Homo sapiens: one gene and its partner. The protein of the gene in region 1 purifies or fractionates together with the protein of each later gene. This does not show direct contact. Each region holds a gene or a part of one and is shown on either strand. Other genes may lie near its edges.

What was found. The genes of interacting proteins can lie anywhere in the genome.
Region 2: the proteins of AASDHPPT (region 1) and ZC3HC1 fractionate together in Homo sapiens (co-fractionation; one large-scale study listed by BioGRID). This does not show direct contact.

Annotation. Positions count from the first base shown.
Region 1 is NC_000011.10:106,084,162-106,087,661, forward strand, and holds part of AASDHPPT (L-aminoadipate-semialdehyde dehydrogenase-phosphopantetheinyl transferase), read left to right. Parts: intron 1-3,500. UniProt on the Homo sapiens protein: Catalyzes the post-translational modification of target proteins by phosphopantetheine.
Region 2 is NC_000007.14:130,037,875-130,041,374, reverse strand, and holds part of ZC3HC1 (zinc finger C3HC-type protein 1), read left to right. Parts: intron 1-273; coding exon 274-424; intron 425-1,827; coding exon 1,828-1,911; intron 1,912-3,500. UniProt on the Homo sapiens protein: Required for proper positioning of a substantial amount of TPR at the nuclear basket (NB) through interaction with TPR.

The DNA of each region.
Region 1 (3,500 bases):
AAAAAAACACTTAGAGCTTGTGAAAATGTCGGAAAAGAACAATCATATAGATGGAAACACTAGAAATTGCTACAGGCTTTTTGGAAAATAATGTTAAAATTGAAAATACACATAGTCTTTGATTTAGCGATCTTGTTTATAGTACTCTATCCAAAATATTTATGAATAACAACAAAACCTGAATGCTGCTAATAGAAATTGGTTAAATAAATTAATGGTGGATGCATTCTGCAGATAATTATTAGCTGTAATAAAAGAATTAGTTAGGTCTATATGAACCTGAAGGGACTTAGAATATATATATATTTAATATTATAATAGAGACAGGGTTTCTCCATGTTGCCTAGGCTAGTATTGAACTCCTGGGCTCAAGTGATCTGCCTGCCTCAGCCTCCCAAGTGCTAGGATTACAGGCGTGAGGTGTGAGCCACTGTGCCCAGCCAATATCACATCATAGAAAAATATATATAGCAGAATCTTTTTTTTTTTTGAGACAGAGTCTGGCTCTGTCGCCCAGGCTGGAGTACATTGGTGCTTGGCTCACTGCAAGCTCTGCCTCCTGGGTTCAAGCAATTCTTTTGCCTCAGCCTCCAGTGTAGCTGGGATTCCAGGCACCCGCCACCTGGTATTTTTAGTAGAGACGGAGTTTCACCACGTTGGCCAGGCTGGTCTCGAACTTCTGACCTCAGGTGAACTGCCCGCCTTGGCCTCCCAAAGTGCTGGGATTACAGGCGTGAGCCATCACACCTGGCCGGGTTTCCATATTTAAACAATATTCCCAGCTGATAGACATATTAATGTTTGGGAAATTCTGTATTGGATGTAATTTACAGAACTAACAAAAAGAAAAATTGTAGCCCATTTACCATTTTTTATGAGTGATATTATCAGAAAGTCATTGCCTCACACTATAACAAAATTAAAGTTTTATTAACACTTTTGGTTTGTTTGTTTTTTTTTGAGACAGTCTTGCTCTGTTGCCCAGGCTGGAGTGCAGTGGCGTGATCTTGGCTTACTGCAAGCTCCGCCTCCTGGGTTCACACCATTCTCCTGCCTCAGCCTCCAGAGTAGCTGGGACTACAGGCACTTGCCACGACGCCCGGCTAATTTTTTGTATTTTTAGTAGAGATGGGGTTTCACTGTGTTAGCCAGGGTGGTCTTGATCTCCTGACCTCGTGATCTACCCGCCTCGGCCTCCCAAAGTGCTGGGATTACAGGCGTGAGCCACTGCGCCTGGCCAGTTTTATTAACACTTACTAGAACACAATGTAATTGTATATTTGAGCAAACTTCTGAAAGATGGCTTTTGAAGCTTAAAATAATAAACCACTAAGTCAACAGATATGATTTCATATTAAATCATCTTTCACAAACCAGAGAATATATTGGTGGCAAATTTGACAGACAAAGGTTAATGTTGTTAAGATATGAAATGCCCCTCTAAATATCGATGGGAAAACCACTTAAGCCTTACTTGATGAATATAGGAAGGACTTTATAAAAACAGTTGACAAAAGAAGATACACATTTAACCATGACTTTGACAACAACCTCAGAGCTAATATTTATTAAGTACTTGATAGTTCCAGGCATTTTACATGTTTATTCTTAATCTGCCCAATTCTTTGTCCCAATTTTACAGTTTGAGAAACAGCCATAGAGATGTTAAGTAAATGTTAAATAAATAACCCACAGGTTGAGTATCCCTAGTGGGAAATCCACAGTGCTCCACTGAGTTTTTCCTTTGAGTATAATTTTGATGCTCAAAAAGCTTTGAGTTTTATAGCATTTTGGATTTCAGGTTTTCAGATTAGGGATCCTCAATCTCTAGCTAAGAAGTGATGGACCAGCATTTGAACATTTGACTGCAGGGACATAGAATTAAAACTCCGAAGGGTACGCGAATGTGTGTGCTTATGTATAATTTAAATTGTATCCATGTGTATATTAGTTTCTTCAGGCTGCTTAACAAAGTACCTCAAACATGGTGTCTTAAAGTGACCGAAAGCTCTTCTGTAAGTTCTGGAAGGCTGGAAGTTAAGGTGTCAGCAGGGCCATGGTCTCTCTGAAGGTTCTAAGAAAGAATCCTTCCTTGCTTCTTCCTAGTTTCTGCTCATTCCTAGCAGTCCTTGGCTTGCAGTTGCATCACTCCAATTTTTGCCTTCACCTTCAAATGACCTTTTCTGTCTCCTCTCTGTGTGTCTGTCTCTCCTTGTAAGGAAACCAGGCATTGGATTCAGGGCTCACTTTAATTAGGTATGACCTGATCTTAACTTGATTACATCTATAAAGACTCTATTTCCAAATAAGGTCACATTCTAAGGTTCTGGGTGGACATGAATTTCAGGAGACACCCTTCAACCCAGTAGAGTCCATTCTCTGGCCCCCTGCAAAATTTATATCCATCTAACATACAAAGTAAATTCACCCCATCCCAGCATTAGCAATTCTCAGCCCATTCCAGCATTAACTCTAAATCTCATGTAAGTGTTAATATCATCAACCCAAAAAGTGGCAGATCTCATCTCAATCATCTAAATCAGCTATGTGTGAAACTGGAGTATGATCCTTCTTGGGGCAAAATTCCTCTCATCTGTGGACTTGTGAAAGCAGAAAACAAGTCTTCTAAAAATCAGTGGTAGGAGAGGCATAGGATAGACATTCCCATTCCAAAAAGAAGTTCGAAGTAAAAAGGGGTCATTGTTCTCAAACATGTTCCAAACCCAGCAGAGTAAATTCATTAGGTTTCAAAGCCTGAAAATAAAAGGCTTCATGCTCTGTCCTCTTGGTCCTCTTCTTCATTCTCTGGAGTTCTTCCTGAAAGGATAACATTCGCAGCCCAGTAGTTCTAGCTCTATCAGCCTGTTTCTTGCCTCTGTGTGTTAATACCTATATGTGTTGGTAAACAATGTAAGAGCAACTGAAGTTTAGGACTGCCTAAATGGTGAGTTTCAAACCTAGGTTGACGTTATTTCAATCTAGTGCTTTTTCTGCTGTACTCCACAAATTGAGGGCTTAAATACATCCTTTGATAGTAACATGCAAGAAGCTTTGTGCATGTAGTTTGTGAAACCTATATTGGCAGCTCAGATATTTTTGTGTTATTCTAGGTTTTTGTCTGGATAAGTTCCTGGACAAATGAGCTGATAAGCATTACGGTGTACATACTAACTCATATCTTAGAAGACTGTCACTTCTCATAGAAGCAAAATTATATATAATTCTATTATATACAGTTTAGTACTTAGAAAGTGAAACTATTACAATTTCTAATATGATTTATTATCTAAGGCTAAATTTTGGTACTTTGAAGCAAGCACGTAGATGGGCATTGCTTAACTCCCTTCCACTTCCCTCAAAAATGACCAGCCCATTTTCCTAAAGGCTGAGGTAGTTATATGTATATATTTGTGTATACATATTGGTGACCTTGTTTTGGAGAGGGATTAATGTCGTAGGCCCTGAGGTTCTGGATTTTTTTCCGTAGGCCTGAAATAGTT
Region 2 (3,500 bases), on another chromosome or scaffold:
TCTACCAAAAAATACAAAAATTAGCTGGGTGTGGTGGCGTGCACCTGTGGTCCCAGCAACTTGGGAGGCTGAGGTGGGAGAATTGCTTGAACCTGAGAGGGTGAGGTTGTAGTGAGCTTAGATCGTGCCACTGCACTCCAGCCTGGGAGACAGAGTGAGAACTTTTCTCAAAAACAAAAAAAAAACAGTATGTGTATACACACACACACACACACACACATACACACACATATATATATATATTTGCTGTGTTGTTTTTCTTAACATGGATACTCTTTGAAATGGGCAGGTAAGCCCTTTGAGCTGTCTCCACTCGTCTGTGCAAAATATGGCTGGGTCACAGTGGAATGTGATATGCTCAAGTGCTCTAGCTGTCAAGCTTTTCTCTGTGCCAGTTTACAACCAGCTTTTGACTTTGACAGATGTAAGTATAAGGTACAAATTACATTTTTCTCCACACTCAAATATATACTATCCTGGTTTTCTGGGGGGGGAAAAAAGGTCATTTTAGTTTGATCAAAAAATGCGTACTTCAATCTTTTTTTTTAATCTTTTTTTTTTTTTTTGAGATGGGGTCTTGCTTGTTGCCCAGGCTGAGCAAGATGTAATAGTGCAATTACAACTCACCACAGCCTCAACCTCCTGGGCTCAAGCGATCCTTCCTCAGCCTCCCAAGTAGCTGGGACTACAGGCGCAGTGCCACTACACCTGGCTAATTTTTGTTTTTTTTTTGTAGAGGTGGGGTTTTACCAGGTTGCTCAGGCTAGTCTTGAACTCCTGAGCTCAAGTGATCCGCCCACCTTGGCCTCCTAAAGTGCAGAGATTACAGGGGTAAGCCATAGTGCCTGGCCAGTCTTTTTTTTTTTTTTTTTTTTTTGAGACGGAGTCTCGCTCTGTCCCCCAGGCTGGATGGAGTGCAGTGGTGCGATCTTGGCTCACTGTAAGCTCCGCCTCCTGGGTTCACACCATTCTCCTGCCTCAGCCTCCCAAGTAGCTGGGACTACAGGTGCCTGCTACCACGCCTGGCTAATTTTTTGTATTTTTAGTAGAGACGGGGTTTCACCGTGTTAGCCAGGATGGTCTTGATCTCCTGACCTTGTGATCCACCCGCCTCAGCCTCCCAAAGTGCTGGGATTACAGGCGTGAGCCACCGTGCCCGGCCTTTTTTTTTTTTTTTTTTTTTTTTTTTTTTAAACTAAGCTAGCTACTGCAGCATGGACTTGACTTAATGTAATCTAGGTAACAGCAGCATGTTTACTTTATTATTCCAAAATGTATACTTCTAGACGAAGAGTGACAAAGGACTTTTATGAAGTCTCACACTTTGGAATGCTCTGCTTTATAAGATACATGGGGGCCGGGCGCAGTGGCTCACGTGTGTAATCCCAGCATTTTGGGAGGCTGAAGTGGGTGGATCACATGAGGTTGGGAGTTTGAGACCAGCCTGACTAACATGGTGAAACCCCATTTCTACTAAAAATACAAAACACTACTCAGGTGGCTGAGGCAGGAGCATCGCTTGGGCCTGGGAGATGGAGGTTGCAATGAGCCGAGATTGCACCACTACACTCAAGCCTGGGCGACAGAGCAAGACTCTGTCTCAAAAAAATAAAAAATAAAAATAAGATACATGGTATCTCCTTTGTTGATCTTAGGATCTCAATTTAAAACCTGTTTTGTGAAAAATATTAAGATTATGTACTTGATAATATTTTCACATTTTAAAATTCTCTTATTTTTAGTTAAATCTCTGCTCTTAGAGGCCATTCATTGGATTTTGAATCTATATAGTGTTTTTTAAGGTGTTGCTGTTTATGTGGATTTCAGATAAGCAACGATGTGCTGAGCTGAAGAAAGCCTTGTGTACTGCCCATGAGAAGTTCTGTTTCTGGCCAGACAGCCCATCCCCAGGTACTTATTTTTGAGAATTCCTGTTCACCATTTTTCCTTCATCATTGCATTTCTAATATTGTCTGTTTGTGAAAACCTAGTCTTTGAACTTTCTTTTTCTCCTTTTCTTTTTTTTTTTTGAGATGGAGTTTCACTCTTGTTGCCCAGGCTGGAGTACAGTGGCGCGATCTTGGCTCACTGCAACCTTCGCCTCCCGCGTTCAAGCAATTCTCCTGCCTCAGCCTCCAGAGTTGCTAGGATTACAGGCGTGCGCCACCACGCCCAGCTAATTTTGTATTTTTAGTAGAGATGGGGTTTCACCATGTTGGTCAATCTGGTCTCGAACTCTTGACCTCAGATGATCCGCCCGTCTCGGCCTCCCAAAGTGCTGGGATTGGGATTACAGGGGTGATCCACTGTGCCCGGCCTCTTTTTCTCCTTTTCTATTTGCATTATTTCCAGAAAAACTTATATTCACTTGTGTTATTACTTACCTTCATGAAGTGCATTTGACATGCTTAAGGCTTTAGACATATATATGCATTATCCCATTTAATCCTTACAGGGGCCCTGGGAGGTAGATACTACCAACCCAGTTCTTTTGGTTTTTTTTTTTTTTTTTTTTGAGACAGAGCCTCGCTCTTTCACCCAGGCTGCAGTGAGGTGGCACGATCTCAACTCACTGCAGCCTCCACCTCCGAGGTTCAAGCGATTCTCCTGCCTCAGCCTCCCGAGTAGCTGGGATTACAGGTACACGCTGCCACACCCTGCTAATTTTTAAAATTTTTTGTAGAGATGGGGTTTCACCATGTTGGCTAGGCTGGTCTCAAACTCCTGACCTCAAGTGATCTGCCTGCCTTGGCCTCCCAAACTGCTGGGATTACAGGCATCAGCCACTGTGCCCGGCCATAACCCAGTTCATTTAGGTGAGGAAACTAAGAATCAGAGGTCTTAAAACCAACTAGAGAGAAGCTATAACTAAGTTTAATCTGATTTCAAACCCTCCGCTTTTCCCACCACACCAAGCAATGCCATGTTCTACCTAGGTTTCCTGTAGAGGGAGTACTAACAGCAATAATGGTGGAAGTTAAACAGGGTTCATTTGCTGAAGAAGACTCACAGGACCCCAAGTGAGAGTGATCACAAATCTGCAGTTTATTGCAGTAAAACAGTACACTATCACAGCAGCACTGAAGTAAGGGTGTCATTACAGCCACAGGCTGCCTGTCTGGGAAGGCCAGGTCCAACCTCCTATTTCCTGTCTATATAAGGGCCATGAGAGGACATACTCTCCCTTGAATCAGGAACTACTGATGTGTGCACAGAACACTTTGGAATAAGAGAGCCCAAAGTGTAATCTCAACTGGGTTTTTAAAAATATTTTGTTCTTTGGCCAGGCACAGTTGCTCCCAACCATAATCCTAACACTGGGAGGCCAAGACAGGAGGATTGCTTGAGTTTAGGAGTTTGAGACCAGCCTGAGCAATAAATATAGTAAGACCTCATCTCTATGAAAAATAAAAAATATTTTGTTGATCACATAGGCATATTCCTGCTGAGTAAACAGCTTCAACAGCAGAGCCCTCTGGTGGGGAATCTAAGAGCAAGTA